2 separate regions of the Homo sapiens genome follow, and region 1 is linked to region 2. The links come from fine-mapping of genetic effects on gene expression. A gene starts in region 2. The other region holds a variant in brackets. All regions are shown on one strand. Distances are between the middles of the regions. Region 1 overlaps KLF7 (KLF transcription factor 7). Region 2 holds the start of KLF7 (KLF transcription factor 7).

What was found. PIP is the estimated chance that this variant, and not a neighbour inherited with it, causes the effect.
Region 1: its variant is fine-mapped to the expression of KLF7 in whole blood (INTERVAL, PIP above 0.99).

What each region holds. Positions count from the first base shown.
Region 1 is chr2:207,076,409-207,081,784 of GRCh38, forward strand. It overlaps KLF7 (KLF transcription factor 7), which reads right to left. Exons shown (of 4, transcript NM_003709.4): 4 at 1-4,856. The coding sequence ends at 4,805. Among named protein-coding and RNA genes, the nearest start is that of MIR2355, 31 kb to the right of the region's middle. The variant GTTCT/G (reference allele first, on the strand shown) is at 2,624.
Region 2 is chr2:207,163,216-207,168,591 of GRCh38, forward strand. It overlaps KLF7 (KLF transcription factor 7), which reads right to left and starts at 2,733. Exons shown (of 4, transcript NM_003709.4): 1 at 2,252-2,733. The coding sequence starts at 2,353. It overlaps MIR7845 (microRNA 7845), which reads left to right and starts at 3,185; the gene lies at 3,185-3,283. RefSeq lists enhancers at 326-1,034, 1,035-1,743, 2,345-2,444, 2,452-3,160, 3,161-3,868 and 1 more and silencers at 2,935-3,574, 4,195-4,244.

The DNA of each region.
Region 1 (5,376 bases), 87 kb before region 2:
CCCGAGGACTTTTATGTTAAATGCAAAACACCTGAAAAATACAGTACTCTATTGGAAGGATGCACATAAGAAAGTTAACTGCAGCTTTATTTTTCCCTTTTCTGGGATCTATTAGGAACCAACAGAGGAGATTTAAGAGTGTTAAAAGCAAGAAAAAACCCTGAAGCCTCAGGCAGTTCGTCGTGGGAGGTCACGTTATTTACAAGAAGTTTCTGCTTCCTTTCACACATTTCTGTTGTTCCATCTCAAGTATTCCCAAAGATCCTCACTGAGGAAAGTAGGCCATCAAAGAGACATTGATGTATACTCAGGATAGGCCCTCTAGTTTTCAAACTGAGATATCACCATGTTCACCGAAATTTAATCCAGACACCCTGAATTTGAGTCCTCCCCTCCTGCCCCCCAACTCTTGCGCTTGGCAGGTGGCCACTTCCCGAAAATGCAAAGGAAAGCTTCCAGGAGTAAATTTCAATCAGGTTCTATTTACTGAATGTTCATTTTGGCAATGTTCTGGGTGCAAAATTGTAGCCAGAAATGCTGGCCCTCTTAAGATTTCAAAAAAATTCTAATAAACTAAAAAATGAACCTGATTTTTGTAGTTAAATGTGTTGCATCTTTATCTTACTTTGCCTACCTTCTTCCTGCTCCTAAAAGCAACTCATGCAAAAGAGAAGACAGAAGCACTTCCCACTTTTTACTTAACATTTTATGAAGTGACTTCCATAAAGGAAACCATTTTGAACCATCAAAACGAGTCACTGGGTTTTGTTCTTGCAACTTGAGTTTCTTTTGGCTTTGCCATAAAATGCAGGAATAAAGGCAAGAGGCAATGTTCCGAATGCACTGGAAGAGCCATCCAAAAGCCCCATTTCTTTCCCCTTTGATGCAAATAGACATGGATAATCTGGAAAGCTTATCCCAAACAAAAGTCCTTATAAAATCTTCTCTGAAGCCAGAGAAGATTTTTTAAAACTAGGATTCAGTTCTGCTAATCAGGCATGAGGTTGGCTGTCCTTTTACCCTGTTATCATCAGGCAATCAAAGATGTACAAAGGGCACAAGAGGTGCAGGTGGAGAGGAGATGGCGTCGAGAGAAGAGGATATTTGAAGGGCTTTGCAAGGGAAAGCACACAGAGAGGAGGAAATGGTCAGCATGAAGTTCATTTTGGGGTCTCCAATATTTTTACAAAAATGCAGCTTTGTCATGGAATCTGAACATCTCTTTTTCTGGACATAATACTCATTACCACCAGGCATTGAGCTGAGCCATTAACCATGGGTGGGGCAGGAGGCCAGTAGCTAGGAGCAGCATTATAATTTCAGGTTTCCATGTCTATGACTTACAGTCATGTGGCAGGAGAAAGAAGTATAATTTGAAATTACAAAAAAAAAAAATTGTCAGTGGCTTAGAAACTCTTTTTCTACATGAACAAATCTGAACCCTGGATAAAAGCGTGCTTGTTAGGACACCACCAGAAACACCAGGCCGGGTTTTTCCTTTCAAATTTGGGATCCCCTGGAGGGTTAGGAGGTAACAACTGAAATGAGAAAGGGGTTTAATGTGTTTCAAATGTCCATTAATGCACTGTTTTAAATAACCAGTCCTCTTGGGAGCAAAATGTCTTCAGGTTACTTCTTGGAAAACCTGCTCGCTCTAGCGGCTCTTAGTAACCATCTCTGCCACTGCAGAGGTGATGGACGTTTTATTACAAATCCATTTCCAAAATGATCAGGACTGGTCATCATTCACAGGTGTCAACTCGGCTAAAGAAGAACAGTTTCAAAGCCATCCACTTAGCACCCACCAAATTCTTAGGCCAATTCTCACAGTCAACAAATGACTCTGAAGCAAGCAAGCACCACCATTGAGTTTCAATGCACCCTGCTCCAAGAAAGGTCAGGAGCAGATTACAAAGGACCTCACTGATACAAAAGAGAGAGAAATTACTGAACATTTCAGACACTGATGAGGACCAAAGGGCCTTTGTTCTGCCACATTCAAATGAGACCACAGATGAAAATAGGGAGCAAACAAGCAATGATTACTCTTTTGCATTTTTTAAACTTTCTTTTTAATAGAGCCTTGCATTGGTCAGTTCGAAAATTAAATTAAGTATTATAAACCCTTAATAATAGCATTCGAGAGGCAAGAGCAGCTCCAGCTTGGGAGAGAACATTTGCAAATCGTGGTGGCCATGGCTTAATGCCATCACTGGCGTGTGCGTGCATTCATGCTGGAGGCTGCTACATAAAGGAAAAGAAAGGAACCAACAGAATTCAGGGTGTCTAAAAGTTTCATCTAGTGCACTGACTGGAGGCGCTACAGTTTAATACAGCTGAGGTTCAAGGTCCCTCACACATCCTTCATCCAGGAAGGATGCACCACACATTCAAATATAATCCCATGGTACGCCCTGATGGACTGGCCACAAAATGCACTCAAATGCAGCAGAGAACTACGAGATTGTCAGCAAGCAGTGCTCCAGAAATTGTTTTTAAGTCATGTCTAGTTTTAAATCTTTGGAATAAAACTGATTTTTAATACCCTCCAACTAACATACATACAATTGCCTCCGGCAAATGGACAGATTTTGTGTGTGTGTGCGCGTGTGTGTTAACGGGT[GTTCT/G]TTCTTTTTTTTTCGTTTTGTATTATTTTGTTTTTTTTTTTGTTTTTGTTTTTGTTTTTTTTGGTCTAAATAGAAAAAAGGAAAAGGAGAAAGTAAATTCTTAGGGCCAGACCTCGAAATGCCCCAAGTGTCCAATTGGCAGCTATAGCATTTGTGAGGAGGTTCCTTTGCCCTCAGACGAGTAGTTTCAACATTTCAGTGAAAACAAAGGTTGCAGAAAGCTGAAAACCCAGATCTTGAAGGTTGCTGTCATATATGTGTTTGTGTTTCTTATATTATTTCCTTTTGACTTCAGTTTTGCATCCCAAATATGTATGGGGTGGCATTTTAACAGTCAATGAGTCAAACAGTCAAAGGAGGACAGGAGGGGAGCCAGCTGGTAGGAGGGAGCAGCAACCGTGTGTGGACCAAGCGCCATTTTTGTTTTATAGACGTGTCTTGAAGGGATGGTCCCAGAATATACAAAATATACAATCTGTCCTAATAACCACCCCGCTTGCTTGCATAGGCCATTTGATGGTCCTAAAGGCAGTCTTTGGAGTTGAGGCCAGTGCCAGCTAGCTAGGAATGCGGGTAGATAGAGACCACTACTGGATGTGTGAGTGTGGCATGACAAGTAAGGACTGTAGACTCCTTTGGAGTCAGCTTGCAGAGTAAATGTGAGGCCTCTGTTAATCCTGGGGGTTCTAGGTCACAAGTCATGGTGGGCCTAGCCAAAAAAAAAAGGAAAGAAAGAAACGTGTCTCTCCTTTTAGACAGCCCATGAGAGAAACACCTCAACCTTTTCCTTAAATGTCAACCCTTCACTCCCACAATGGCGTTTTAAATTGTGTATTGTAACACGTAGGGGAATAGGAGCTCAGTGGGCATGACAGAGAAGACAGGATGATCTTTTGTGAAGCCACTAGACTTGGGAGGCATCCTCAGTTTTCCCCACTCCTGGAAAGAGTGATATTTTTGGCTTTTTGTCAGGTCATAAACCAGAGTTAAATTAAATACGCAGCTGCCCTCTGAGACTAGCGACATCTATGCTGTAACTGGTTATGGGGTAGCAATGACACACAGCACAACGGTTGATCACTATGAGCTGAGGTCATCATGCCTCAAGGAGGATGAGAGAACTGTGATGTCCCATCTGACTGGCTGCTTCGAGAGCTGGACATCCAGGTGCCGAGAGAGTCCTGGAGAGGTTTAGTCCATGGAGAAAAGATAAAACATTTAAGCTTCCAAATAAGCTTTTCAAGTTTTCGTTAGCAAAAACGGAGAGATTAAAAAGAAAAAATCTAGCACTGGCAATAAGGTGAGGCTCAAGGGATATACTGTGATTTATCATCAAGGACTTTATTCTCTTGGCCACTTTGCAGTCATGCTAGAAGTTTCCAGAATCCCTAGTGCATATGGTGTGCAAAAGTCAAAACGTAAGAAAAGAAAACTCCTCCCTTGAGAGTGAAGTCTACAGAAATGCAGGCCAGAAAGGTGTAAGGTGTTATTCCAGTCTGCCGCCGCTAAGGCCGTTGGGATCGACGCGAAAGATCTCAATAGTACTAAGAACCAAAACCAGTCAACAGTTCTGTGAGGAAGTCTGACGCACGGAATAGTAGGACTTTTCACACACAAAGGACAAATAAACCAAGAGTTAATTTTGGCTACCAAACTGCAATTTGGTTTTCTAGGTCATTTTCCCCCAACTATTTAAAAAGAAACATTAGTGCTACACATATGCAACTTTAAGATGCTGGATTCTCCTATCAAGTTGCACTGAGAAGCAAGTGAAATAAGCCCCTCGGACTGCCGTCCACCTGCACAGACGTCACATCCATTTTCTTTGATTTCCATTGGCAACAGCGGGAAATAATTCCAATAGTGCTGAAGTAAGCAGCCAGTCTGCCTTGCTGAGTTCACCTGGTTTCCTTCTTCATCTTCTTCCATCTGGCTAGGGCAAGGCATAAAGAATAGACGTATATATTTTAAATATAGTTGAGTGCATGACAGTGTGTATGTGTGTGGGTCTGTGAGTGTGTGTATATGTGTGTGTGTGTGTGTGTGTGTACAGAGGTTTATAAGTGAGAACTTTCTTCTGCGAGGCAATGGGTCCCCGCCTGAAGTCCAGCCCCCTGCCTCATGGCGTTTCCTTTAGACACTAGCCGATGCCATGGCAACTCTGGCCTTTCGGTTTTTTAGATATGTCTCTTCATGTGGAGGGCAAGATGGTCAGACCTGGAAAAACACCTAGGAGATATAAACAACAAGGATATTAGAGAACTCCCAGCAAACAGCTTGACTTGCATCACTCCTTAGGAAATGATTTCCCTTACTTTAAACAGAGACAGTGCACATGCATTGAGAAACAGGGCCATGTGTTGGGAAGGTAAGTTTAAGGGACAAAATGTTTGGGTTTAAATCCTATCTCTTCCAATAGCTGTGTGACTCGGAGCACATTAACCTGTCTGTACTTTAATTCCTCCTCAGTAGAGTGGGGATAATTATAGCATTTACCTCATAGGTGGGTTGTGAGGATTAAATGAGATGATCTATGCAAGGTACTTAGAATACGGACTGGCACATCGTAGGATCTCAGTGCATGTTAACTGTTATGATCATAATTGTGATTATTAAAGAAGAATGGGAAAGTGCTTTTGAAACCTGTGTCATGCCTGCATACTGTAAATATAATAAAGAATAATTAGTCTATATCATCAAAGGGTGGAACTTTGAAATTTCAACACCCAGATTTCAACCCTAAACTTTA
Region 2 (5,376 bases):
TTAGTGCTTCCCCACAAGCTATGCATCAGCATTGGCTATAAGCATGACGCTGAATAAGTTGGCTAAGGGTTTTAAGGTGAGAGTGGCTGGCAGTTGGAGAGGGTTAAGGCAAAAAATGAGGGGGTTCCGAGGGGTGAAAAATCCTTTGCCTGTAGAAACTAAACTAGAGCTTCCCTGAATGGGGAGGAGGCAGAGGAGCAGGGGGAGGAGGGGAGAAGGAAGAGCAGAGATGGCTTCTTAGGAAACAATAGATCTAATACATCCTCTAGTTGTCAAACCGATGATGTTTCTTTGCAGATCTAGAGTTTGTCCTGGATGGTCTAGCCAGATCTAGAAAAGCAGGTTTCCTGTGAAGAGACCTTCCTCCAAATCTGGCTTTACTACTCTGAAAACTTGAACCAAAACAAAGTTGCATGATTCATCAGTAGGGAACGTTCTAACAAATAAAGCCAACTTTCTTCCTTCTAACACTGCTTAACAGTTAGTCACAAACAAGGGCTGCCTTGGGCAGGCTGACTAAATCAACAGATTCCCTTCTCTAACCTGTCTAGACAGTTGTTAATATGCAACCGATTCCATACCAGTGGGCTGACAGTGTGAAATGAAGGCTATTTCAGAAGATTTTGGTTTAATTAGCATTGGAAATAAAAGGAAGAAAAAGATCCAGTGAGACCCTTCATGAGACACACTCTCGTTAAGGATAAGGAAAAGGATGCATTGAAGAAAGACTTTATTCTAAAAATATGTGAACTGTGTATGTGTTTACAGAGAGACAGAGTCAAGCATCTGCTAGCGTCCTTGGACAAGAATGCATGTGTGGACACAGAGACACCAGACGCCAATACCTGGAGGAAAACTCACAGCCTCTGACCAGAAGTGAACTAGCAACAATGGTACAGTTAAAGGATCCGCCTTGCCACTCGGCTCCTTATACCAAAAGCCAAACCTCTTTTGCTAAAGCAGAGACTGTTACATCTCAGCCTCAAGCTGGCAAATCCTGCTTTGGATCCCGGCAGAGGAAATTCAGCCGTTCATTAGCCTTAACAAGCTGCTGTCACTAAGCGAAGAAATTACACGAGCAGCCACACACCGAGCCTCTCACAGCCCTCCCCCCAAGGGCAAGCGGGTTTCTCCAGGACGGACTGTACAAGTTCACACTTCCTATGTGCAAATCCGGACTGTCTTCTTGGACTTTCCATGGTGCACACTGTACAATTTTTAAATACCCGTGTCCCCCCGCCCCCACCCACCATCTTTCCTGCAGAATGTCCCCTCAGCAGCTCCTAATCGCTGCTGAAAAAAACCACTGTTTCCGCAGCAGAGCCAGCACTTTCCACTGACCAGCACTTTCTTTATTCCACTTCACAAAGCCCAGTGAACTTGTCACCAGCCCCACTTCATCCTCCCTGGGACGGCTAGCCAACTTGGCATCGGTGCCCTTCAGCATCCTGGGAGTTTCTTAACTAGTCCTCTAAGACAAAGTCAAAGGCATGGAAGCACACATCAGCCTTTGTCCGAGGTTGTGCTGCCTAACTAGAGAAGGACCCTAAACAAAAAAGAGAAACAAGGACACGCATAGAGGGTGTTCTCTTTCTGGAGGGATCACACTGGGAAAACCTACAATTCATTGTCAGCCTCAGCTACATCTTCCCGTCCTCCTTGAGTATCTTTTGTCAGTGGGCTCTTCTCTCTTTTGCCTACCTTCTAATCTCAAAATCAAGCTCCTATTCTTTATTGACACTCGCTAATTACTGAAAAACACTCCGCTTTGCTCCTGCCCACCCTCCCCCGCCCCCCATCCGATGGTCATAAGCACCAGTTGAAACAGATGAACCTGATTTCAGGTATCAAGTGGGTAGAGCTCATGCATGCGAGAACGTGGTCCCTGTCAGCAATCGCTCCTAACACCCCAAACCACCTTCCCACCCGGCTCCTCCGAACCCCAGAAGTTCGGCAGGTCTCTGATAGGGGACAGCAAACCCGACAACGTGTGCGCAGGGATGTGTGTTGGCGACTGAAACGCAGGCAGCTCGCACCGGCTGCTCAGCTCGGCACTCTACGAGGTTAGGGGTGGGTGGAGAGGTAAGCGCAGATGACTGTTTCAGAAAACATTTTCAACAACAGACAGCCAAAAAGGAAGAAAAAAAAGTCAAACAAACAAACAAAAATTTCAACCCAGAGCCCACACCAACGCAGCCCCTGCGTCTCCGCCGCCACCACACGATTTACACAAGTAATTTAAATCATTCACCTGCTGCCAGGTCTCCTCCAGGGATGGTAAAGCTGAGAAGTAGCCGGTGTCGTGGACAAGTTGTAGCTCCTGGAATATACTATAACTAGCCAACACGTCCATGCTGCTGCTGCCGGGCAAAACGGGAGGCGAAACCCTCCCCCGAACACAGTTGGGGCTGTTTGTTTGTCAGTCTGTCTGGCTCACCCCCCAAGAAGGCAGACATCCAGTGGCCCTTTTGTTTTGTTTTGTTTCAGTCAACTAAAAAGGAAAAAAAAAAATCAATGCAGGAGAGGGAGAGAGGAGGTGAGAGAGGAGCGAGTGAGTGGGGTGGATGGAGAGAGGCATCCAGCGTGTACAGTGCAGACGACTGCCAGGAAAAGGGGACTTCTCCACGGGAGTAACAATTCCCTTCCAGGGCTCTAATCACTCCAGCTCGTGGATCAGGAAGGGGGATGCAAACTCACTGACACGAAGCTGCCATCTATTTCTGCAGCGCTGTTCGCTCCTAATGCAATCTTTGCTCTTTATTTTGGGAGGTTGCATTTTTTTCTCTCGCGATCGCTTCTCTTCCCCCCCCTTCCCTTCCCTCCCCACCCCCCACCCCATCCTTGCTAGTTTGTAGTCTTCCCCCTCCCTTTTCTCCTCCTCCTGCTCTTCCCCCTCCCCAAACTCCCTCCCTCCGTTCGGTTCTCCGCGCAGCCGTGGGATCTCGAGGAGGGCGTCCATTAGGCCGCGTGTGACCATGTAAGGTAAACAGGGGGCTCATGAAGTCACTGAGGACCAATGGGGAGCCCGGAGCAGAGCCTGGGGCGGGGCTTGGCCCTGGCGGCGGGCGCGGATTGGCACGCTGCGGATCTCCCTGCTGCCTTACAAGGCGGTGCGAGGCGAGCTATTTTTAGAGGGCTATATAAGGGGGCTGAGGCGGCCGCCCGGCGGCCGGGCAGCGCGAGCGCAAGGGACAGGGAGGGTCGTGGCGACACTCGCGCCAGCTCCCGGGACGGCTGGGCTCGGGCTGGTCGCCGACCTCCGACCCTCCACTAGATGCCTGGCAGAGCCCGGCGCGTCCGGAGCCCGCGCCCCTCAGAGGGAAGGGGTCGCGCGTCGCCGCGGCGGCCCTGAGGCTGACGGTCGGGAGGTGAAAGGCCGGAGTGCGGGGTCAGGACGCCTCCTGGAGGGGGCGCGGCGCAGGGGGCCGCGGGGAAGCCGCCGAGGGCGCGGAGCGGGAAGGAAGGACAGTGGCCACCCCGCCTCCGCCTGGGCACGGGGCAGGGACCCGCGCGAGGCGGTGCCGGGGAGGTCCTCACGTACTCAAAAACAAGCAGAAAAGGCATCCAGGGCCCCTTCCCGAACTCCCCACGGGCTGCCAGGGTGCAGAGAAGAAGCGCCTGAGGAGGAAGTGCCACACAATGGGAGAGAACAAAGGGGAGCGGAGCGAGACCGCGGCCTGCGCCCGCCCCCCGCTTGCGCACAGTCCCCGCCCCGCCCCGCGGGCGCCGCCGCCGCCGCCCTCCCTCCCGCGCCTCCTTCTGACCCCGAGCGAGAGACCTGGTCGGGAGTCCGGCGGCTAGAGTTGATTGCAAGGGGCCTGTTGCTCGACTGTGCGTTAAAGAGGCTAGAGGGAGCCTAGGTAGACGTGGGGCGCAAGCTGGAGCCGGCAGCTTGCGAGGGGGCCTTTACGTGATGAGGCTCACCATGGGGTCTCCAGCGAGGTGTCTGCAGAGCTTCGATGGTGAGAGGAGGAACTCGATTTCTCGTTTTCTGGAGTTGGGATGTAGACATAGAGAGATCTGTTACATCTGAGATGAAAACCCTGCACAATTCACGTTAGGGTTGGCCAATTGTTTGCTTGACCTTAAATGGTTAGTGTGGTTTAAGCTTCCCCAAAATGCGCTGTGAGCTGAGCTTCCACTTTTGGAATGATTGCAGAATTCGGTGCTTAAGAGATGAGAAACTTCGTTCTACCAGTAATGGAAGAAACGCTTCACCTTAATCACCCTCCTTGTCTTTCCCCTCCCTTTGACTATGTAGGACTCGATAACACAACATTTGAAAGATTCTACTCTATGAAATAAGCACAGATTGAAATTCAGTATTTGCCAAGGAATATTAAACATGAATTACTGGGATTGAGGAAAGCCTGATTTATTTACTTGTTAGTGTCTGGAATTCTGTTGGCCAGATTCATAGCATTCATTGTATGAGTATAATTGGAACATTTACTCTAATGTAGATGCAGATGCATCTGCAATTAGATGTGCAAGGACGCTGCCAGCTAACTAGCTGCACGACTTTGAGCGAATTACTGGGTCAGAACTTGTATCTACCCATCTCAGAAACAGAAATAGTGGGATCCGCGTTGTCTAGTTGTTATGAAGAGTCAAAATATCTTTGGTAACTCACCTAGCATAGTATCTGACACTATTAGGTGAATACTAAATATTAGCTATCATTGTCTCCCCACTTGAGCTATGTAAACTAATAGGACCTTTAGGAGAATATACTATTAATAGAATCTTGGAGATAGAGGAAAGGTAGAAACCCCTTGCTAGTTTGTTACAAGGTCTCCCCTTCTCCATGCTCTCCCCTGACCCCCATGCTATTTCAACTGGGGGGATGGGCAGGAACCATTGAGAAACACTAGGGCAAAAAACATGTTCATGAATAATAGGGGAAGGAAAGGAACTTGGGTATAGAAAACTAGAGGCAAAAGGTGAGGCAAGACCAACCATATAATTTGGTACTTGAGACTCAAGTGAACTTATTTTGTGTGTGTTACATTATAACAATTTTTGAATAAAATAGGACATATCGGTTAACGTGAGTTTGAAGATTTTACAAATAATAGTTCCCATTTATTAAGCACTTCGAATGTGCCGTATGCGCATAAACACTTTATATGCAATGTCTCATTTAATCTTAAGGACAGCCCCAAAGTATCCCCAACTTTATGGATGAAGATACCCACGCTTGGAAATACTAAGTAAGTTGGTCAAGGTCTCACAACCTGGAAGTGGTCAAGCAGGGGTTCAAATCCAAGAGCATCTGACTCCCCACACTGTTCTGTACTGAGCTTTGTATGGTGAAAAATGGGGTTCCTCAGCTTTAAGTCAGTGTGTGTTTACAAAAATTGCTTGGGTGGGGCC